Linked DNA regions of Homo sapiens. The protein of the gene in region 1 purifies or fractionates together with the protein of each later gene. This does not show direct contact. Each region holds a gene or a part of one and is shown in the gene's direction. Other genes may lie near its edges.

What was found.
Region 2: the proteins of CPNE5 (region 1) and USO1 purify together in Homo sapiens (affinity purification with mass spectrometry; 2 studies listed by BioGRID and IntAct, with this or other methods). This does not show direct contact.
Region 3: the proteins of CPNE5 (region 1) and ANKRD52 purify together in Homo sapiens (affinity purification with mass spectrometry; 2 studies listed by BioGRID and IntAct, with this or other methods). This does not show direct contact.
Region 4: the proteins of CPNE5 (region 1) and GEMIN5 purify together in Homo sapiens (affinity purification with mass spectrometry; 2 studies listed by BioGRID and IntAct, with this or other methods). This does not show direct contact.

What each region holds. Positions count from the first base shown.
Region 1 is NC_000006.12:36,740,246-36,745,456, reverse strand, and holds the end of CPNE5 (copine-5), read left to right. Parts: coding exon 1-69; intron 70-306; coding exon 307-409; intron 410-930; coding exon of another isoform or gene 931-1,080; exon of another isoform or gene 1,081-1,125; intron 1,126-1,131; coding exon 1,132-1,189; coding exon of another isoform or gene 1,190-1,335; intron 1,336-1,694; coding exon 1,695-1,768; coding exon of another isoform or gene 1,769-2,167; exon of another isoform or gene 2,168-2,206; intron 2,207-2,970; coding exon 2,971-3,189; 3' UTR 3,190-3,706; coding exon of another isoform or gene 3,707-3,754; 3' UTR 3,755-4,682; downstream 4,683-5,211. UniProt on the Homo sapiens protein: Probable calcium-dependent phospholipid-binding protein that may play a role in calcium-mediated intracellular processes. Plays a role in dendrite formation by melanocytes.
Region 2 is NC_000004.12:75,811,566-75,814,816, forward strand, and holds the end of USO1 (general vesicular transport factor p115), read left to right. Parts: intron 1-594; coding exon 595-810; intron 811-1,640; coding exon 1,641-1,730; 3' UTR 1,731-2,721; downstream 2,722-3,251. UniProt on the Homo sapiens protein: General vesicular transport factor required for intercisternal transport in the Golgi stack; it is required for transcytotic fusion and/or subsequent binding of the vesicles to the target membrane.
Region 3 is NC_000012.12:56,241,370-56,248,410, reverse strand, and holds part of ANKRD52 (serine/threonine-protein phosphatase 6 regulatory ankyrin repeat subunit C), read left to right. Parts: intron 1-186; coding exon 187-388; intron 389-636; coding exon 637-724; intron 725-800; coding exon 801-918; intron 919-2,814; coding exon 2,815-3,034; intron 3,035-3,220; coding exon 3,221-3,308; intron 3,309-3,421; coding exon 3,422-3,505; intron 3,506-3,613; coding exon 3,614-3,759; intron 3,760-3,975; coding exon 3,976-4,058; intron 4,059-4,277; coding exon 4,278-4,360; intron 4,361-4,534; coding exon 4,535-4,626; intron 4,627-5,018; coding exon 5,019-5,269; 3' UTR 5,270-7,041. UniProt on the Homo sapiens protein: Putative regulatory subunit of protein phosphatase 6 (PP6) that may be involved in the recognition of phosphoprotein substrates.
Region 4 is NC_000005.10:154,893,196-154,900,236, reverse strand, and holds part of GEMIN5 (gem-associated protein 5), read left to right. Parts: intron 1-926; coding exon 927-1,046; intron 1,047-1,586; coding exon 1,587-1,797; intron 1,798-3,893; coding exon 3,894-4,145; intron 4,146-7,041. UniProt on the Homo sapiens protein: The SMN complex catalyzes the assembly of small nuclear ribonucleoproteins (snRNPs), the building blocks of the spliceosome, and thereby plays an important role in the splicing of cellular pre-mRNAs.

The sequences.
Region 1 (5,211 bases):
CCGCAGCCTGCGCACTGTGCAGCTGTACGGCCCCACCAACTTTGCCCCCGTGGTCACCCACGTGGCCAGGTGAGTGCCGCTGCCACCGCCTCCAGGCACTCACAAGGCCTCTGTTTCCACACCAGCTCTGCCTCTGGGTGGTGGGAGGGGGTTTCTCTTCCCACGCACTTGCCTTTCAGGGAGCCCTGACCCTGAAGAGATTCCCCCAAGAGCTGTCACCCTCCAAAGTGTTCAGGGTCCTTGTTTAGGGGGGAACATGCCCAGAGGTCCCGCAGACAGACCTGAGCCCACACCTGCCCCACCCAGGAATGCAGCGGCCGTGCAGGATGGCTCCCAGTACTCGGTGCTGCTCATCATTACTGATGGGGTCATCTCGGACATGGCGCAGACCAAGGAGGCCATTGTCAACGTAAGCAAGGAGTGTGCGGTGGGGGAGGCGGTTTGAGGAGTGTCTTCCTCCCCGTTAGGGGAACCCTGGGGATGTGCCTACCTCCTTGACCTTAGGGAAATGCTTGGAGATGACTTGGGCGTGGCTTCTCATTTCCCTGCCTCACTGGGCCCCACTGCCCTCATCCACCTTCTGGCCTCTGGCTGCAGAGTCCGGTGCTGGATAGTGGATTCTAGCGGGTGGAAGGGGTGCCCAGATCATGAGAGATCTGGCTGGTGAGCTCTGTTCCCACCTCTTAGTCACGCTCTGGTCTACTCCCTCCAGACCCCAATGACTCCCTCATTAACCCATCTCTAGGACCGCTTCCCCCTTTCCCAGGCCAGCCTGGCCAGGTCAAAGGAGTGGGAGGGGAGGCTCAGAGTTGGGGAAGCTCAGGAACATGGCTCCCCAAGCCGGTGGTCTCCCTGTAAGAGGGGATGGGGGTGACTCACCAAAGCAGACCTATGACCCATTCCCCCTGCCACCCTCCCTCTCTCCTCCAGGCGCAGCCTGGTTTCCTTTGCTCTTTATCTCTGAGTGCCCTCCCTCTCCCTACCCCCTTTTCTGTGTTTCTCTGTCTCTCCATGTTCACTCTCCCATTTCTTTCCTGCCCACCCCTTCCTGTCCTACCCCTGATTTCTCCTTCCTTTTAACTGGGTCCCAATTGGGTCCAACCTTTCCCTGCCCCCCATGCTGTCTCCCAGGCTGCCAAGCTCCCCATGTCCATCATTATCGTCGGCGTGGGCCAGGCAGAGTTCGACGGTGAGTCCAGCTGCTGCCTTCCCCTCCTTTCCTTCCCTAGCCACGCAACCCTGCCCCCACCCCAGATGTTTCCCCAGAGGCTGTGGTCCCCTGGGAATGACCCCTCCCAAAAGAGTGAGAGCTCCCGCCTGGGCGTGTGTGTCTGGGTGAGTGTGCAGGGTGTGGGACGCATTTGTTTGCTCAGGGAAGGGTGTGTCAGGTCTGGGTGTGCACCCACACCCACATCCCAAGGCTGTGGGGAGGAGGCCCCAAGTCACTTCTTTCTCCTCCAGCCCTGGGAGTCTGGGGAGGGTGGTGAACCAAAGCACTGGGCTCAAAGTCAGAGGCTCACCTGATCGGGCTCCTCCTGGCCCCTGGCCTCAGTTTCCTCATCTCTAACACGGGGCATGGGCCAGTGGTCTCGGCCCTGGATTGGCCTGGGATGAAAGGACAAGTCCACTCTCCTGCTAGGGCCAGGGGTCCACCGTTAATCTCACCCCGCCCCATGACACTCCTCCCCTCACAGCCATGGTGGAGCTGGATGGCGACGACGTGCGGATCTCCTCCCGGGGGAAGCTGGCTGAACGCGACATCGTCCAGGTGAAGCCCAGGCCTTGCCTGCCCCATGGGAAATTCAAGAGCCCCTCTAGCCAGGCGGACCTCACACCCCCTTTGGGGGCTTCCCTGGTGAAGGGCCCAGAAGGGAGGCACTGGGAGCCCCAAAGTGGCCCAGCCACCACCGAAGGGAGTAGGAGTCAGTCCTCGGCCATGCTGTGGTCTGGGCTGGGCCCCCCTCTGTCACATCTGGGACACACTCCTAACATTGCGGGTGCCCAGCCAGAGGCCAGAACCCTCTGCCAGCCCTTCCTCAGCCTCCAGGCCTCTGTGGTCAGCCTCGTTCTGGTTTTTTTCTGCCCCTTGAAGGCTGAGGCAGTGTCTTTAGTGTTGCTGCAGCCTTCTCCAAGAATAGGCATTGCTCGGTTAACTGAATCAATGTAAGCATCTCCATGAACGGTGCAAATATAATGAGCAGAAAGACCTTTGTCCTCAGGGAATTCCCATGCAGTCTCACGTGGAAGAATGCACCCTCCGCAAGCACTTCCCCCACTCATCCCCTGCAGAGGAGGCCCTAGTGCTTAGGAGATGCAGAAGACAAAGCTGACATCCTGCATACCCCCTTGGTTTAAAAATTGGGGCCCAGTATCCCAGGTGTGGAGACCAAACATAGGGGGCTGGAAACCAGAGCAAGACAACCTGGGAGGTGGGACCGGCCCATGCTAAGGCCTGGAGGCAGGAGTGAGCCAGAAGAGGCGCTCAGGATGGAGGGCACCCCCGGGAAGAAGCCAGATGGGCCTGGCATTAGGCATTGGCCAGATTAGCCCCAGAGAGAAAAGGAACGAAGAGAGGCCAGAGAGAGAGGGCTCTGCTGGACAGGTCGGGGGAAACCCAGGAGGGCACGTGCCCCAGAAGTCAGGGATTCAGTTGGCATTTCGGAAGCACCTACTCAGAGCCTGTGCTTAGTGCCGAGGTGGAGAAATCGTGTTCAGTGGTGTGTCCTGGTGTGGAATAGGGCTCAGTTTTTGTCGAGTGAATGAAAGAATAGTGACTATGACTATAGTTACTGACTGCCCAAACCCAGGGAGTTGAGGGATACAGTCCCTCAGGTAATTCAGAAAGGTGGGGGGATTGAGTCAAGTGAGCAGAGGCTGGGAGGGGGGTGGGGATGCAACCCCAGGCCTGGAGATTTTGGGGGCCAGGGTCCCACAGGAGGCACTGCCTGACCCTGCCCTCCCACTTGCCAGTTTGTACCCTTCCGGGACTACGTGGACCGCACAGGCAACCACGTGCTGAGCATGGCCCGCCTGGCCCGAGACGTGCTGGCAGAGATCCCTGACCAACTGGTGTCCTACATGAAGGCACAGGGCATTCGCCCGCGTCCCCCACCCGCAGCACCAACCCACTCGCCCTCGCAGTCCCCAGCCCGCACGCCCCCTGCGTCCCCCCTGCACACGCACATCTGAACCTGGTCTCAGCAGGCAGGTGGCTGGGGCCTGGGAGAGGCCAGGTGAATGGGAGGCCAGGGCCCCAGACTCCCCGAAGTTGGCCTGCCCGGCCTTTGGGACATCTGTGTGCCTGGGAGGCTGCCAGGGGGTGGGGCTTCTGAAGACCCCTCCTCAATTTCTTGGCCTCACTTATTGCCCAAACCCAGGGAGTTAGGGGGGTACGGGTGAAAGAGGGGTACACAGGGACCCAGCCCTTCTCTTCTTCCCCAATACCTGGCTCTAACCCAGCCAGGAAGGTGTAAACAATAAGGGTGATTGGGGTCCCTGTCGCCCACCCCCGGCAATCCTATTTGCTTACCTGTCACCCTGAAGCCTGGGCTTGGCCTCCTCCAGCCCCCCATCTCCGTCCCATCCTCCCATGGTGTCTACTCCTGTCCCTGAGCCCCGCCCTGTGGTCTATCCTGTGCCCGATTTCCAGTGAACCCCATGAAGCTGATGGGTTTGCAGGAAGGCCTGAACATGTGCACCCTCCCAGGGACACTGGATGCGCTGGGAGCCCCGGGGACCCCATGGGGTGCTGTAATCATGGACCGTAGGCCATGTGATGGGCCTGAAGTGGAGGCTGCTCAGCACAGAGCCCTTTCTGGTGCCTCTCGAACTCAGTACGATGCAAGTTCTAGACACACAGATGGCCTGTGGAGGCCTCTCCCTGGTGTGGGCCCACAGGTACTTCCATGGTTGACTCCTGGCTTCAGGAATCCCTTCCTCCCTCCAGAGGCTTCCCAGGGCCCTCGGTGCCCACGCCTCTGCCCATCTGGAGGCCTGAGTAAGGAGTGGCTCAGCCCCACGTTCCCACACTGCTCCTGCTCTTTGCCCTGTATCCCATGAGGCTAGGAGACAGGAGTCCTGGGTTTGAGCCCTGCCTCCCCCCACTGCCTAATGTGGGAACCCAAGCAAGGCCCTTCTACCTTTTGGGCCTCAGTTTCCATGTCTGTACCACAAGAGGGTTGACCAGATGGCCCCAGGTTTTCCTTTAGGTCTGACATCCTGAGGGTCATTCATCCCATGCCCAGTTCCCCCCATCCTACTCCTAACAGATGTGACCCTACTTGAGGCCGCCTTGGCTTTTGGGTCACCCTGTCTCATCCCATCACCCCAAACATACCCTAGTCCTTCAGCCTGGGGCTCTGGCATCTGAGCCCGAGCTCCTGCCCCTGCTGTGGGAAAGGTGGGGAAGAAGGGGATCTCCCTCCCGGGCCCACCCAGCTGCCCAGCCTTTGCCCACTCGGGGAGCAGATCATGCATGCCAATCCCTGTTGCCGCATGGAGCTCCTCAGCCCACTGACCTCTCCGTGCCTGGTGCAGGCCAGGCCCCCGTCTTCCGCCTGCCTCTGCTTCCCCGTCATGCATGGTGGTGGTGTTTCTACGGTGTCTGGTTCTGTGCCCGTCTCTGAGACAGTCTCTGTGTGGAATTTGCCTTAAACTGAAGTAAATTTGGTTCTTTTAGTAAAGCACGAAGTTTTTCTTTCTTCTCTGAAAAATAGCACTGACGTTGCTGCTTGACAGGGTCCAGTTCTCCTCTGTGGCTTCCTTCAATTGTTTGCTTCAGTGAGATTTACAATCAAAGGCCACGTGCCACGCTCTGTGCTAGGCATTGAGGATGCAGCCATGAACAAAGCACAGACCCTGTCCCTGCACAGGGCTTACAACACACACACAGATAATATGGGAGAGACCCAGCAAACACATCAACAAATAGGCTAGTAACATCATTTCAGGTGGTAGCAAGAGTTCTAAAGACACATGAGGGAGAAGGAGGGTGATGTTTTCGATGAGGTGGTCAGAGAGGGCCTCTCAGAGGAGGTCATGGTTGAGGTGAGCCCCCAGGAAGTAAGACAGGGAGCCACGCTGATATCTGGGGAAGGGAGCTCTAAGTAGAGGGACCAGCAGGCGCAAAGGCCCTGTGGTAGGAGCTTCCTTGGTGCATTTGCAGGAGAGCGAGGCCAGTGTGGCTGGAGCTGAGTGCAGGAAGGGAAAGTG
Region 2 (3,251 bases), on another chromosome or scaffold:
GCACATTAAATCCTGTCAGCATATTATTGTGTGACAGAGACATCAGAATAAATAGCATGAAGAAAGGAATGAGGTCACATTAAGGAAAATAAGGAAAATAATGTATAATTGTGCTTTTTGGATTGTGGCCAAATTATTTTATTTTTAAACCATAGATTTTTATTTGAAGCTATTTTCATTTAATTGTATGCTTGAAGTTGGGATAAAAAATTTTTTTTTAACTTGAGCTTTGAGTTCTAAAATTCTGGTACTAATCAGACTTCTTCTGTAAAATGCTTTGTGTTTCTGTTTACTCCTTTGATTATCTGAAATGGTACTGTTTTTTTTAAGTCTCTTAAAGGTTTTTTCAGGGATAGCTAACTAAAACTATTTTTTGGATGTTAAACTATTTTTTGGCAATAACCATTTTTGATGAACAGTCTAATAAATTCATGTTAGTGTGTGTGTTAAACCTCCTGTACCCTTAACCTCCACCCCTAAATTCCTTAGGTTGAACAAGTACAGTGATTTGTCATAGAAAGAAACTATTTGTTAAAAACTCTAGGAAAGTGAGTGCTAATTTTAGATTCCTGCCTTTCACCTTTCTTTTCCTAGAATGAAATTAAAGCTCTGTCTGAGGAAAGAACTGCCATTAAAGAGCAGCTGGATTCATCTAATAGTACCATTGCCATTTTACAAACTGAGAAAGACAAACTAGAGTTGGAAATTACAGATTCTAAAAAAGAACAAGATGATCTCTTGGTGCTCTTGGCCGATCAAGATCAGAAAATACTGTCATTGAAGAATAAACTCAAGGATCTTGGTCATCCAGTAAGATTAAAATGTCTCCAAAAATGATTTGTATTATGTTTTAGTATAATGCATTTAAAAGATTTTTAATGTAACATGGAAAAGTTGTGCCTGTATTATAGGAATGGATATGTGGGTTCATGAATATGGTACCATCTATACTGTTTTCACTGTTTTCATTGAATTTACTTAATACACAGATTAGGTTCAGTTTTCAGTACTTACAGACTATTTTCTTTTGGACCGTAAGCCTAGAAAGTGAATTGATTTGATTGGTAACAAGACTGTAGTCACCCAAGCATGTCATTATCTTTTGCCATGTTTGTTTCAGATTTGTGTGTAAAGAGGTGTAGCCATTTATCAGCAAAGTTAACTGATATATCTCATTCATATTAGAAATGACAGAGAGCCTTGGCATCAAATCAAAGAAATCAGATGGCTTATATTCTACTGTAGTTACTAGAATACAAAATTTGTCTGGGCACAGTGCTCACACCTGTAATCCTAGCACTTTGGGGGGCTGAGGTGGGCAGATTACCTGAGGTCAGGGGTTCGAGACCAGCCTGGCCAACATGGTGAAACCCCATCTCTACTAAAAATACAAAAATTAGCAGGGCGCTTGGTGGCAGGCACCTGTAATCCCAGCTACTCGGGAGGCTGAGACAGGATAATCGCTTGAACCTGGCAGGCAGAGGTTGCAGTGAGCCGAGATCGCACCATTGCACTCCAGCCTGGGTAACGAGCAAAACTCCATCTCAGAAAAAAAAAAAATTATCAGTAGTATATATTGTTAAATGTTGAATGTGACATGAACAGATTTTCACAATATTAAATACGTCTTTTTCCTCTAGGTTGAAGAAGAGGATGAACTTGAATCTGGAGACCAAGAGGATGAGGATGATGAAAGTGAAGATCCTGGCAAGGATCTAGATCATATCTAGTTTTCAAATCTCTAGGAACAATAGAGATTATATCATAACTCTGAAGATGGACTCTAAACTTTGGTTTACCTCCATGGAAAATAAAGATTTAGAAACCAGGTGGAAAACATTCACTATTAAGACTATTGATATATTTTTGTAATGTTGCCACCCATGTTGAAAACCTTAAAACTGAATTTATGTAGAACACACATCTTTTATTTAAATCCATCTGAACTGTCCCAAAATGTAATTTGCAAAGAGCTTCAAACACCAAAAATATACCATTTTAAGGCATGTGGTGACAATGCTATTTGCCTTAGTTCATTCGTTGTTTACTTTGCAAAATTTGTGACTTTTAAGTACTAACACATTTGATTGAATGTGTATTGAATTGGAATTATTATTTCTAAATTCAGCATTTGAGTCCTTAGTTGATGATTTTCTTTTAAAGAAATTAGTTTATTTAAAAGCAAGATAGCCTGGGTTGGGAGTTAGTGCATATCATCAGCCCTCCATCTAATGTGATTGCTAAGATGTGCAGGATAGGACAGCTTAGAATGAGTGCCTTGACACCTACATATGGCTGCATTCCATACCTCAGTGAAGAAGCCGAAGGATGCTGACACACAGTGATGTGGAGGGCATTCCGGAGAAACTTTTGCAACAGTGTATTAATGTGATTGGTTTTCTTTTTGTTTTAAGCTAAACATCTAAAACAAATTTCAAGTTAACAGTTCATACAACTCAGATTTAGTAGTATTGTTTATCATAAAACATATTATGTTCCTAGTTTTAAAAAGACCCAAAGTATGATTAATATAATTTATTGGCATTTTTGCTGAATAGGTTTAAGTCAGATAATAGATTTTAAAAAAGCAAATGAGGCAATGTGTCAAAATTTAATGTTTCATAATAAAAATAGATACGTTGACTTAATCCTTGGTCATGGTTCCCTTTGTTTACATCTTAAAAGTATTTTATTCTTAATAAAAGATGAGGCAAGTGAAAATGATGAGGCGACTTTTCTTATTAGGGGTACACAACTATAACTGAATGTTAAAAACAATCTTCTTTAAAACCAATGATTATGATTCCCTAAGATTGGAGGGGGTTAGAAGTACAGAAGTAGAAGAGGTTGGAAAAGGGTTTGGACGTTTTTAAATTCAGCACTGGAGTTCTTGGCAATGATTTCCTGTTGAAGAAGTGGGTTTACTTAAAGACAAGATAGCCTGGGCTAGAAAATAACGTATTTATCTGCCTTCTGGGGTCAGGAATAGGACACAACTTTTGAAAGAGAAGGAAGGTCACTGTCTTGATGAAGGAGACAGCTGTGTGTTACAGAGCACTCGTGAATGCTGCACTGTGCCCATGTTCCACCACTACTGCCATCCTAAGGTGGCACTTGCCATCAGAGAAAGAACTATATTACTGTCACCAGACCAGCTCAGATAGGTGAGGTCTTCCTAAAGTTGACAACCACATAATGAACCATGAGTTAATGACTACCTTTCAGGCTAACGTACGGTTAAAGAAAAATGG
Region 3 (7,041 bases), on another chromosome or scaffold:
TCCTTCCTTCTGCCTTTTTGTGGGAGAGGGGATAAGCACAGTGCAGGGTAGGAAGCCTTAAGGGGCCCAAGGAGCTTGTCAAGGACTAAGACCTTGAGCTTCCCAGGGACCCCAAGAGCAGAGAAGGGGAAGGGAGGAGCAGGGAAGGTCCCGAGCTGTGTGCACTGGTTGCCTGCACCTTGCCAGGCCTACAACGGTCACTGTGAAGCCTTGAAGACGCTGGCGGAGACGCTGGTGAATCTGGACGTAAGGGACCACAAGGGCCGGACCGCACTCTTCCTGGCCACGGAGCGCGGCTCTACTGAGTGTGTGGAGGTGCTTACAGCCCACGGCGCCTCTGCCCTCATCAAGGAGCGCAAGCGCAAGTGGACACCCCTGCACGCTGCTGGTTAGTGCCCACTTTAGGCTGCTGCCCTACCCTTGCCATGCCAGATCCCTCCTGGATGGGAATGGGGCTGGAAAGTGGAGTAGGGTGAGGAGAATGGAGACTTCAAGCCCTGATTCATAGCTTCCTATCCTCAGAGATTTCTCCCTGGCCCAGGTCTTTCTGTAACATTGACCCCAAGTCCTTTAGGCTTGACCTTGCCTCCCTTCTTCCTCCTGGCCCTGCCCTGACACGGGGTCCCTTTCCCCTAGCTGCCTCTGGCCACACTGACTCCCTGCACTTGCTGATCGACAGTGGGGAACGAGCTGACATCACAGATGTCATGGATGCCTATGGACAGTGAGTGTGGGCCAGGGTGGGGTGCAGGTTTTCCAGTCCTTGCGGGATCCTCACTCCTCCTCCTGCCCTTCTGTAGGACCCCACTGATGCTGGCCATCATGAATGGCCATGTGGACTGTGTACATCTGCTGCTAGAGAAAGGATCCACAGCTGATGCTGCTGACCTCCGGGGCCGCACTGCCCTCCACCGCGGGGTGAGTGAGCTTCTAGGGGGGATTGTTTGCACATGGGCCTCAGTGTGGGAGCATGGGACTCACCAGCAGTAGGGAATCCAATTGTCTAGGAGGCAAGCCAGGATTTTGTGCCGTCTTTTTTCTTTTTCTTTTTTTTTTTTTTTTTTGAGACAGGGTCTCACTCCCATTGCCCAGGTTGGAGTGCAGTGACACTATCACAGCTCACTGCAGCCTTGACTTCCTGGGCTCAGGTGATTCTCGCACCTCAGCCTCCTAAGTAGCTGAAACTGTAGGCACATGCCATCATGCCCAGCTAATTTTTGTATTTTTTGTAGATATGGGGGTCTTACCATCTTGCCCAAGCTGGTCTTGAACTCCTGGGTTCAAGTGATCCCCCCACCTTGGCCTCCCGAAGTGCTGGGATTACAGGCATGAGCCACCAGACCCACGCTGTGCCCAGGATTTTATTGAGCTTTGTGCTTGCTCCAGGATGAGTTCCTGACGTCCCCAGCTGATTTCCCTGATATCTGTGCTTTGTTTATTATTATTATTATTATTATTATTATTATTATTATTATTATTATTATTATTATTGAGATAGAGTCTCGCTCTGTCACCCAGGCTGGAGTGCAGTGGCGTGATCTCGGCTCACTGCAACCTCCGCCTCCTGGGTTCAAGCAATTCTCCTGCCTCAGCCTCCCGAGTAGCTGGGATTACAGGCGCCTGCCACCACGCCTGGCTAATTTTTGTATTTTTAGTAGAGACAGGGTTTCACCGTGTTAGCCAGGGTAGTCTCAATCTCCTGATGATGAGATCCACCCGCCTTGGCCTCCCAAAGGGTTGGGATTACAGGCGTGAGCCACTGTGCCTGGCCAATATCTGTGCTTTGTAATCACGTACAACTGAGTGCTCACCACCCAGACTCTACCTGGGATACCCTGCTGGCCCCAACCCATCGCATAATGTCGCCACAACCTAGATCCTCTTCCGTGACCACCTGTCCTAAGCTGCCTCCTCCTCCCATAAGATTTTTTGATCCCTTAGTCTCCTTCTCTCCATTTAGTCTTTCCAGTATTAACTCCAGAGCTCCAGTATTAACTCTTAGTATCCTGATTGTCTGCTGGCATAGAGAGAGTCAAGGAGGGAGATGTGGGTCCCTAATACTTAGAATTGTTGTTGTAAAGGGCCGGGCATGGTGGCTCACGTCTGTAATCCCAGCACTTTGGAAGGCCAAGGCGGGCAGATCACCTGAAGTCAGGAGTTTGAGACCAGCCTGGCCAACATGGTGAAACTTCGCCTCTACTAAAAATACAAAAATTAATTGGGCATGGTGGTGCATGCCTATAATCCCAGCTACTTGGGAGGCTGAGACAGGAGAATTGCTGGAACCTGGGAGGCAGAGGTTGCAGTGAGCCAAGATCGCACCATTGCACTCCAGCCTGGGTGACAGAGTGAGACTCCGTCTCAAAAAAAGAAAGAATTATTGTTGTAAAGACAAGGATTGAGGCCAGTGGCTCATGCCTGTAATCCCAGCACTTTGGGAGGCCGAGGCAGGCGGATCACGAGGTGAGGAGATCAAGACCATCCTGGCTAACGTGGTGAAACCCTGTCTCTACTAAAAATACAAAAAAATTGGCCGGGCATGGTGGCACCTGCCTGTAATCCCAGCTACTTGGGAGGCTGAGGCAGGAGAATCGCTTGAACCGGGGAGGCAGAGGTTGCAGTGAGCCGAGATTATGCCACTGCACTCCAGCCTGGGCGACAGAGCAAGACTCCGACTCCAAAAAAAAAAAAAAAAAAAAAAAGACAAGGATTGGAGCCCTGGAAGTGGTTCTTACTCCTGAGCCAGACTCCAGCAACAGGCCAGTGGAAAAGGAGGAGCTTTTCATCCCCCTCACACCCCCATGTTACTCACAGGCAGTGACTGGCTGTGAGGACTGCCTGGCTGCCCTGCTGGACCACGACGCATTTGTGCTGTGCCGAGACTTTAAGGGCCGCACGCCCATTCACCTGGCCTCAGCCTGTGGCCACACTGCAGTACTGCGGACCCTGCTGCAGGCTGCCCTTTCCACAGATCCCCTGGATGCCGGGGTGGATTACAGCGGATACTCGCCCATGCACTGGGCCTCCTACACTGGTACTAGACTGGGGCCTCCACAGGCACAGGAGCATGTGTTGGAGTGTGTGTAGAGGGGGACAGGTGGGTTGTTGGGGGGGACCTGGGTTGATCTGAATCTGGAAGTGGAATGGAGTGTCAAGACACAGGACAGACAGGGAACCTTGCCGTTTTTCTCCATCACTACTCTTCCTTCCTCGTGCCCAGGACATGAAGATTGTCTGGAGTTGTTACTTGAACACAGCCCGTTTTCGTACCTGGAAGGAAACCCCTTCACTCCTTTGCACTGTGCAGTGTAAGTCCCTTCTGCTGCATCAGCCCTTCTCGCGAGGGCCCATGACTTGAGCTTAGGACAGGTAGTCTACTTCCCTTGTCCTTCCTGATGACCCCTCCTCCCTCTTCCTCTAGGATTAATAACCAAGACAGCACCACAGAGATGCTACTGGGAGCTCTGGGTGCCAAGATTGTGAACAGCCGAGATGCCAAAGGACGGTGAGTGATGGAAGACTTGGGAAGAATCCCAGTTGCCTCTGGCTTCCCCTTTCTGCTTGGGCAGTATACTCTTCCCTATTTTAATCTACCCTGATCCCTGCCTTACAGGACCCCCCTTCACGCCGCTGCCTTCGCGGACAATGTCTCTGGGCTCCGGATGCTGCTGCAGCATCAAGCTGAGGTGAACGCCACTGACCACACTGGCCGCACTGCGCTCATGACGGCGGCTGAGAACGGGCAGACCGCTGCTGTGGGTGTGTAGGGGCCACTTGTGGAAGGGAGGAGCTCCCCTGGGGCATTTGCAGGATGGGTCAGCCCTGCCTGTGGAGGCTGGCTGGGGCTGGGGTTCAGAAAGCAAGAGGGTTGTCTTTGGATGTCTCGCCATCTGCAGACGGGATGCAAAGTGGAGAGCCAGGATGGCTACTGCTCTGGAGGGAGGGGTCAGTCCCTCTATCACATTTCTCTCGTAGAATTTCTGCTGTATCGAGGGAAGGCAGACCTTACTGTGTTGGATGAGAACAAGAACACGGCCCTCCACTTGGCTTGTAGCAAGGTACTTACCTGAAGTGATTGGGGGACTGCATAAGGGGCAGAGCTTGATGAAGAGAGGTAAGTCTCGGTTGCAGAGGGGACTGGGGCAGAAGTGAGGATTGTCCAGCCTATCCGACTGGTTGGGCAGCTGTTTGTCCTCCTGTTACTCTCCCCAACTCCTGCCCTGCACCCTGCCACATTTCTACTTCACAAGTCTCCACTCTCTGTTCCCCTCCCTCAGGGCCATGAGAAATGTGCCCTCATGATCCTGGCAGAAACCCAAGACCTTGGCCTTATCAATGCTACCAACAGTGCGCTGCAGATGTGAGTGCCTGGGGAAGGGGGCTCCTGGCTGGGGGAGGCCAGTGGGTGATGAAAGAGTGGCCGCTGTTCAGAGGCTCTCTGGAGCCCATTGTATTTGTTCAGCACCCTTGCCACCCTGTCTGGAGGTGGAAGGGCAGCTTAGCATCAAGCTCCTTCTTTTTCCTTTTTTCCAAGGCCACTCCACATTGCTGCCCGGAATGGTCTAGCTTCTGTGGTACAGGCCCTGCTGAGTCATGGGGCCACAGTGCTGGCTGTGGATGAAGAAGGTGGGTGGGGTCTGGGGCCCCATGCCTCTCTTGGGTTTGGGGTCAGGGACATTCTTCAGGAGGTGACTTCTTAATCTTGCTATACATGGGATTTTCTTCCCAAGGGAACTCTTCAGAGCAGGGAGCCCACACCAGTACTCTGGAGTCTCAGAGGGGAGCCTGCAGGGTCAGGAGGACTCCACACCCTAGGCTTTGACTCCCATGCCCGCCCTTTAACCCGTACTTAGAGAATCTGCCTGTCAGCCTTCCTGGGCCCTCGTCACCCTTGGATTCTGCCGCTGCTGGGTACCTGCCTGCCTTGGCTCCCTCCACAGAGAAGAGACTTCAGGGCTTGGGGGAGGCTGGCTAGGATACAGGACTCTATGCCTCAGTTCTCCCCCTTGGCCCTGCAGGTCACACCCCAGCACTGGCCTGTGCCCCCAACAAAGATGTGGCAGACTGCCTGGCCTTGATCCTTTCCACCATGAAGCCTTTCCCACCCAAGGACGCCGTCAGTCCTTTCAGCTTCAGCCTGCTCAAGAACTGCAGCATTGCAGCCGCCAAGACGGTGGGTGGCTGCGGCGCCCTGCCCCATGGGGCCTCCTGCCCCTACAGCCAGGAGCGGCCCGGCGCCATTGGGTTAGATGGCTGCTACTCTGAGTAGCCCCCTCCAGTGTCCCTCCCCCGCCGGTGGCTTGATATCTAATTCTATTTATTTAGAAAAAGTCTAAACATTTAGGGCACTTTAAAGGAGAACACGACTGGGTGGAGGGGGCGGAGGGGAAGGAAGCCCTGGGGAGCAGCTGCTCACCCCTTTGCCACACCATCTTGGCCTGGCAGGGGTCTGGGACTGACAGGGAGCACCCCAGGCCCTTGGTACCCCCAGGGCGACCCCTTCTGCCAAGTGTCCCAAAATGATTGCTAAATGCCTGGCTCCCCCACTCTTTGACTCCATCTCTTGGTTCCCTCTTTCTGCTGCCAGCTCCCCCGACTCTTCCCTGGGGACTCCTCTCTGTGTCCCCCTTCTCCCCTGCCCCTACTGCCAGGCAGATCCCCTCTTCTTCCATACCCATCACTGCCTCCCTGCTCGGCCGGTCCCTCCATCCCCGCAGCAGTGAGAAGCCTTAATTTCTGGTACTGTGTGAGCACTCTGGGGGTGTCCCCCTCCCCCCTTCAGGGGCAGCTAGAGGATGAGGGGGGAGGATATTTAGCACTGGGGCCTGGAGCTTTTTCCCCACTTCTGTACCCTATCACCCCTAAAGTTCAAATGCAAAACACTTGAAGCAGCAACTACTGTACCTGGGCCCCAATCCTGCACTCTCCCCTGGCTCCTCATATGCAAATCAAGGGCTGGTTCTGCCCCCACAGCCTGCCCCCTCCCCATTCCCTCCCACTCCTAGCCTGGCCCCTAACCACGCACTTTAACCTTGCTTCTTTCTTTTATCTTCTTTTGGGAGGGCAGAGCCTGTGGTCATTCCTGCCCTGGCTCTCCTTCCCTTGAACTTTGAGGCTTGTCATGAATTTTTAAGTAAGCGTTTTATCCTTTAGGGGAAGAAACAAATTAATTTCCTGCCCATTTCAAAACCACAGCCCTAGTATGTCCACTGTGTTTCAGGCATGTGTTTGCATGTATATGGAGGGAGGGACCATGTTCTTCCTCCTGTGCCGCCAAGCCCATAGTTTATCTGTGCTCCCTATCTGCCTCCACCTTCCGTTATGTCCAAGAGTACCCACTGCCCCAGTCACTCCTGATCTGAAGCCAAAGATGGTAGGAGGGGCAGGGCCGACAAGGGACCGTGGCTACTCGGGACCCAGGCTTCCCCTCCAGTGTGAGGAAGAAGCTCTGACCTAGAGAGAGATGAATAGGTACTGGGGCTTGGTCCCTGCCTTCCCAGCAGGGAGGAAAGATGGGATTGAGCTGGGGGCTGCACTGATAAGATTTCTAAAGTCGCACCCCAAAAGCCAAACTGGGCTGGAGTGAAGAGGGGGCAGTTTTCTCTCTAAATGTAGCATTGAATTTGGCCCTGGTCCCTTTAAGTGCTCTGTCCACCCATCTCCTAGTGCAGCCTCCTGGACAGTTGGACCCACTCCTGCAGCCCAGTGTTCCCTTCCTCACACTCAATACCTCAGCCAGGGGCCAAGACACAGAACTTGAATAGAGGTCATGCCCCCTCCGCCCCCACACTGCATCCTTGCCCAGTTTGGCTGCCATCAGTATTGTCCCCTGAGAACTGGACAGGCTTCGTTTACACAGTACAGGGTCTCCCCTGAGGGGGGATCCTTCAGCCTCCCTCCCCTACTCAAGTTTGCTTTATTCACAGTCTTACCCATCTTTTAGTTGTATACCCTGAATGTCTTGCCACCCTTGTCAAGGGTGGGCTGAGGGGAGGGGGGCGTCCCAGGGACCCCCTCCCTCCCCAACGGATACCTTTAACC
Region 4 (7,041 bases), on another chromosome or scaffold:
TTCAGATCTTCCAAATGTTAACATATCTTATTATAAAATACCCAAAAATACCACATTCCTTACTATCACCATCAGTCTCATCAGAAAATTCTAACTTATGGGAAACTCAGGCACACAAGTGGTAGGTACAAGTTTTCTAAAATTCTAATTTTTGCTAGAAAACTCGCATTTTATCATTAGTAACAAATACTGTTGGTTGTTTTTAATGAAGTGATAGGCCTACTTTGTTCATTTTTGAGAAAAACATCTGCCAAATACCCAACACTGAATAACTGTTATTTATGTTAGTCATTTTTTTTTTTTTTAGAAGAAAGAAGGTTCTATGAAAAAGCAGCCAGTTTAGCTTGTAATTTGTTCATACAGGTGTTACCTAGAGACAACCATTCTACTTTGGAATGCAGCAGAGAACACAAAATGTTCTTCCCATTTGTCACACAGAATATTAAAGTGTTTTGGACTTGACGGATTTAGTAAAATTTGTAATTTTTACTGCTTCATTAAGGGCATTCTTCCTTTTTTTCCACTGTAAGAGCCACCGCCTTCCTTCTTAGATGCCAGGTTTCCCAATCACTGCTTTGGCACAATCAGTGCAAATGTCAACACATTTTTTTTTTTTTAATAAAAAAGCACATAACTGACTCTTAGCATTGTTACGAAAATAGTTTTAACCTCATGAACCCTCTGAAAGGTTCTTGAGGACCCCCTAGGAATCCACAGACCACAATTTAAGAACTGCTGATCTAAGTGAAGAAACGAATGCAGCATATGTTTCTAATTTGTCTATATAATGCAAGTGCAGTTTTTAAAGGAAGTTGGAACAATAAGACAACACAAAAGGGACAGTTTGTCCTGTCTTACAGCCCCTCCTAGGACCATACACAGAGGAGCCTTTTCAGATTGGCTAAAGGGTCTGTTCTTGCCTTTAGGGAAGCTATTGCGATTGCCAAGGCCCGGCTGCGCCCGGAGGACCCAGTCCTGAAGGACTTGTACCTCAGCTGGGGAACCGTCCTAGAAAGAGATGGCCACTATGCTGTAGCTGCCAAATGGTAAGCCTGAGGAGTGGAGGGATGCTTCCAACATAGGAGAGCTTCTGCCAGGAAGGGGAGGACAAGAATACAAGTAATAAGTTTAGAGGTGGAGGTAAAGCAGCAAGGAATTATTTAAAAGATATGTATATTCAACTTAGTTTCATAAGACTCATCAGGAACTACTTCCTGATTTATTTATATAAATCACTATAACTATTCAAGAAAAACCTCAGCAGCAGATTAAGAAATTATGCATTTTTCTAATGGTCTCTTATAACATCAAATAAAGGAACCTCAACCCATGCTGGATTGAACCCAACAGAGGAGTCATTCCCTCTCATTTTCCTTATGTCCTTAACCTATATGATATTGTTTCTCATACACTCTGCTGAGTTGTGTTGGCCTCAGCCTTCACAGGAACAACCGGGGCAGTGACATACCTGGGACCACAGGAAGGCACATGCAGCAAAGTAGATAGAAAGAAATGATTCCATCCTCTAGGAATGGGAATAAAAATCTGTTTGTGACATTTTCTTCACATTTTTATTCATATTATAGCTATTTAGGGGCCACTTGTGCTTATGATGCAGCCAAAGTTTTGGCCAAAAAGGGGGATGCGGCATCACTTAGAACGGCTGCAGAGTTGGCTGCCATCGTAGGAGAGGATGAGTTGTCTGCTTCCCTGGCTCTCAGATGTGCCCAAGAGCTGCTTCTGGCCAACAACTGGGTGGGAGCCCAGGAAGCCCTGCAGCTGCATGAAAGTCTACAGGTCAGTCTGTTATTTCATCTCCTAGTATACAAGAGGGAAGTGTCCCAAATCCTTTTCTAGTCAAATCCAAGTTAATAACCCAGTTGCACAAGCTGTGCCAATTTGGCAGGCCCAGCAAGCCCTGGCCATGCTATCCCACTGAAGTACTATGACTTGTTAGTTGCCGTATTCAGAGTAAGAGATAATATGGTCATTCACAGTAATTCCCATTGCTTATCTGTTTGTACAAAACACCTGTGAGCCGGGCACAGTGGCTCATGCCTGTAATCCCAGCACTTTGGGAGGCCGAGGCAGGCAGATCACTTGAGGTCAGGAGTTTGAGACAAGCCTGGACAACATGGTGAAACCCCGTTTCAACTAAAAATACAAAAATTAGCCGAGCGTGGTGGCACGCTTCTGTAATCCTAGCTTACTTGGGAGGCTGAGGCAGGAGAATCACTTGAACCCGGAAGGCGGAGGTTGCAGCGAGCCAAGATCCAGCCTGGGCAACATAGTGGGACTCTGTCTCAAAAAAAAAAAAAAAAACACAAAAAAAAACACCTTAGTCAGCCCAGGCCTTGGGTTGGCAGTCTAGGGTTTCTTCATTGATGTTATCAGCACTGTCTTCCTTGAAGAGAGAATGGTTGGCCTCTAACAGAAATCATGGAACTCTACCTGTAAATGCCCCTCTTAACTGTAAGCTATGGAAAAAAAACTGGGCCAGATGCAGCAGATCGCTTGAGATTAGGAGTTCAAGACCAGCCTGGCCAACATGGCGAAATCTTGTCTCTACTAAAAATAAAAAAATTAGCCAGGCATGGTGGCACACATCTGTAATTTGGCTACTTGAGAGGCTAAGGCAGGAGAATTGCTTGAACCCAGGAGGCAGAGGTTGCAATGAACCAAGATTGTGTCACTGCACTGCAGCCTACGTGACAGAGTGAGACTCTTCAGAAAAAAAAGAGAAAAGTGTGGGAAAATGGAAATCTCTTTATTTCTTAAATTTTTTTGTTCCCATCTGATTAAAAATCAGTAACATACCACTGCCTTTTTGACACATCAAAACAGATTAAAGCATTGGCACACTTACCTAGTTTCTGAAACATGTAAACATTTGATTCACTTTAGATAACTTTGTGAGATACTAACAAGAGGTTTTTTAAGTTCTTCATTCTCTAACAGAGTACAGGGCCTACAGATGGTTTTTAGCTGAATATTTAGAGCCCAAGGAACGTGGTACATGGGGAGGTAGCTTTCTAGGAACAGCAGAATAAAAATGGAGGTGAAAATAGGACACCCTAAAAGATAATGCCACTGGGCATTATTTATAAAATGACCAAGTCTAGAAAGATTTTAATTTATCCACCATCAAAAAAAGTTTCCAGAATGACTGTTTAGCATTTTATTTTTCTCTTAAACAGCATCCTTAACAAAGCAAAAAAACCTAATAAGCATATGCTAAATATTCTGATAAGGGCTATTTTGGTTTTGTGCAACAGAGACTCTTGCAAGCTTAACTGAGAAGATATTGTTATAGGAGTACACAAGGAATCTCATGGCAACTAAAAATCTAGTGAAAGTAGATTTTCTAGGCCTTCTCTGTGCTTCTGTTTTCTTCTCTCCCAGCCAGCTTCCTCTATTAAACCTATTTGGACATGGCTCCTAATGCCTGTCCCAGCTCTTGGATCTGCAAAGCTTGTCTATTCCAGCACCTTTGGCCCATTATGCTTTTATTCCTGAGTCCAAAGTTTGGTCAGGGAGAAAGAACCTGATGAGCCCAGCCCTTCTTTTCCTCAAACTAGGCTACAAGGCTTAAGTGGCTGGTCTGTGTGTGGCTTAAATCATTGTGGGTAGTGCTACAGTTGGGATTCTGTGTTATAAAAATGGTTTCTTGAGCTCTAAGGATAGATTTCCCCCAAAAGGGACCTGGGAAGTGTCTGTCAGATCGCCCCTTTTGTCTCTTTTCATGCATGACTCATATGGGGCAGGTAGCTCACTAATGTGCTTTGGTTGCTGCAGATACAAAGGGAAATACTTTGAAGGACACGGGAGAGCTCTCGAGATCATCCAGTGCTTTCCCTGTATAACAGTTCCTCTTCCTTGTTGTCGTGTTCCAGGGTCAGAGATTGGTGTTTTGCCTTCTGGAGCTACTGTCCAGGCATCTGGAGGAAAAGCAGCTTTCAGAGGGCAAAAGCTCCTCCTCTTACCACACTTGGAACACGGGCACCGAAGGGCCTTTCGTGGAGAGGGTGACTGCAGTGTGGAAGAGCATCTTCAGCCTTGACACCCCTGAGCAGTATCAGGAAGCCTTTCAGAAGCTGCAGAACATCAAGTACCCATCTGCTACAAATAACACACCTGCCAAACAGGTAAGCCATCTGTACCAGCATTTGACATTAATCACTCAGTGGTAAGACTTCCTTAATCCATGTCTATTGTAACGGGGAAACAAGCAGAATACTGGACTGTGTTTCAGAAAAGGCTAAGGCATGGCCACGCCACCTGGAAAGATCCCTTTAGACTAATCAAAGCCCTTTAACTTTAAAGTTAGTATTAGATCAGTATTCCCTTTTTTGTTTTGTTTTTTTTAGTTGTTTGAAGCTGGAGTGCAGTGGCATGATCTTGGCTCACTGCAGCCGCCACCTCCCAGATTCAAGTGATTCTCCCGCCTCAGACTCCTAAGAGCTGTGATTACAGGCGTGCGCCACCACGCCCAGCCACTATTTCCTTTTCTAAAAAAGTAAAATAAAAAGTCTAGAAAATATAGAAAAGCAGAATAATGTAATAACCCATCAACCAGAATTAACAGATGTTCACATTTTGTCATTTTTACTTTGTAGGGTTTTCTGGTTTCATTTTGTATTTTGATTTGAGGACTTTATAAAATAAAAACAGTAGGGCAAAGTTGAAGTCCTTCTTGTTCCTTTCCTCAGCCCTTCACTCCTTCCCTAGCTCGCCACAGGCACCTCCTGTGTCAGTGCCACATGTATTGTTTTGCTGTTTGCTTATTTCAGAGGCCATTGTTTGTAAAATCTATCCATGTTGATAAAAAGAGATCAGTTGATTTATTTTAACTGCTATGTCTGCCTTGTGAATATACCTACTTCTTTTTTTTTTTTTTTTTCCTTTCTGGAGACTGGGTCTCACTGTTACCCAGGCTGGTCTCGAATTCCTCAAGTGATCCTCCCGCCTCAGCCTCCCAAAGTACTGGGATTACAGGCATGAGCCACTGTGCCTGGCGTAGTTCTTTCCCTCATTTCAAAATGAGGGAACATTATGATATTTATGAGGAACAAGGCTTCTCAAATGGTATATACTTTGAAAAACAATTGGACAGTTTCTTTTTTTCTTTTCTTTTTTCCTTTTCTTTTCTTTCTTTTTGAGGCGGAATTTCACTCTTGTTGCTCAGGCTGGAGTACAGTGGCATGATATCTGCTCACTGCAACCTCCGCCTCCCAGGTTCAAGCAATTCTCCTGCCTCAGCCTTCCAAGTAGCTGGGATTACAGGCATGTGCCACCACGCCCAGCTAATATTTTTACTTTTTTTTTTTTTTTAGATGGAGTCTCACTCTGTCACCCGGGCTGGAGTACAGTGGCATGATCTTGGCTCACTGCAATCTCCGCCTCCCAGGTTCAAGCAATTCTCTTGCCTCAGCCTCCCGGGTAGCTGGGATTACAGGCACCTGCCACCATGCCCGGCTAATTTTTTGTATTTTTAGTAGAGACAGGGGTTTCACCATGTTGGCCAGGCTGGTCTCGAACTCCTGACCTCGTGATTTGCCCACTTCGGCCTCCCAAAGTGCTGGGATTATAGGCATGAGCCACTGCAGCCAGCCTATTTTTCAGATTTTTAGTAGAGACAGGGTTTCACCATGTTGGCCAGGCTGGTCTTGAACTTCTGACCTCATGTGATCCACCTGCCTCGGCCTCCCAAAGTGCTGTGATTACAAGTGTGAGCCATCACGCCTGGCCAGGCAGTTTCTTATAAAGTTAAACATGCACATGCCCCATGTCTCAGCAGTTCTGCTACCTAGATATTCCACTAAAACAATGAAATCAGATGGCCACACAAAGACTTGTACACAAATGTTTACAGCAGCTTAGTGCACAGTAGCCAAAAACTAGAAACAACCCAAATGTCCATCAACTGATGAATGGATATGCAAACTGTGTTGTGTCTATGCAGTGAAATACTATACTGTTTAACAATAAAAAGGGCCAGTCTTGGTGGCTCACACCTGTAATCCCAGCACTTTGGGAGGCCAACGCGGGTGGATCGCTTGAGCTCAGGAGTTTGAGACCAGCCTGGGCAACATGGCAAAAACCTGTCTCTAGTAAAAATACAAAAATTAGCCGGGTGTGGTAGCACAAGCCTGTAATCCCAGGTACTAGGGTGGCTAAGGCAGGAGAATCATTCAAATCTGGGAGACGGAGGCTGCAGTGAGCCAAGATGGAACCACTGCACTACAGCCTGGGTAAGAGAATGAGACCCTGTCTCAAAAAAAGAAAGTAAAAAGGAACAAATTACTGCCACACAAATAATATCGGTGTTAGCCGCGCGTGGTGGCGGGCTCCTGTAGTCCCAGCCACTCTGGAGGCTGAGGCAAGAGAATGGTGTGAACCCAGGAGGCCAAGCTTACAGTGAGCCGAGATCGTGCCACTGCACTCCAGCCTGGGCGACAGAGCAAGACTCCATCTCAAAAAAACAAAGAAGAAGAAGAAGAATATCGGTGAATCTCAAAAGCTTTAAAGACACAAAAGACTATATACTCTGTGGTTCCATTTATATGAATTCTAGAAAAGAAAAAATTAAAGTGACAACCAGTTCAGTGGTTGCCAGTGGGGTGGGGCCAGGAGATCGCCTGCAGAGGAGCCGGAGGGCATATCTTCAGTTGATGAAAATGTTCTGTCTTGATTTTGCTGGTAGTGTTGTAACTATATATGTTTCTCAAACTACATACTTAAAATTGAGCACATTTTTCTTAGTTGTACTCCAAGCTTTGTTTTGTTTTGTTTTTGGTGGGTTTTGATTTTTTTTTTTTGAGACAGCGTCTCACTCTGTCACCCAGGCTCGGGTGTAGTGGCTTACTGCAACCTCCGCCTCTCGGGTTCAAGCAATTCTTCCGCCTCAGCCTCCCAAGTAGCTGGGATTACAGGCGTGCACCACCAAGCCCGGCTAATTTTTTTTTTTTTTTTTTTTTTTTTAGAGACGGGCTTTCACCTCGGGTGATCCGCCCGCCTCAGCCTCCCAAAGTGATGGGGTTA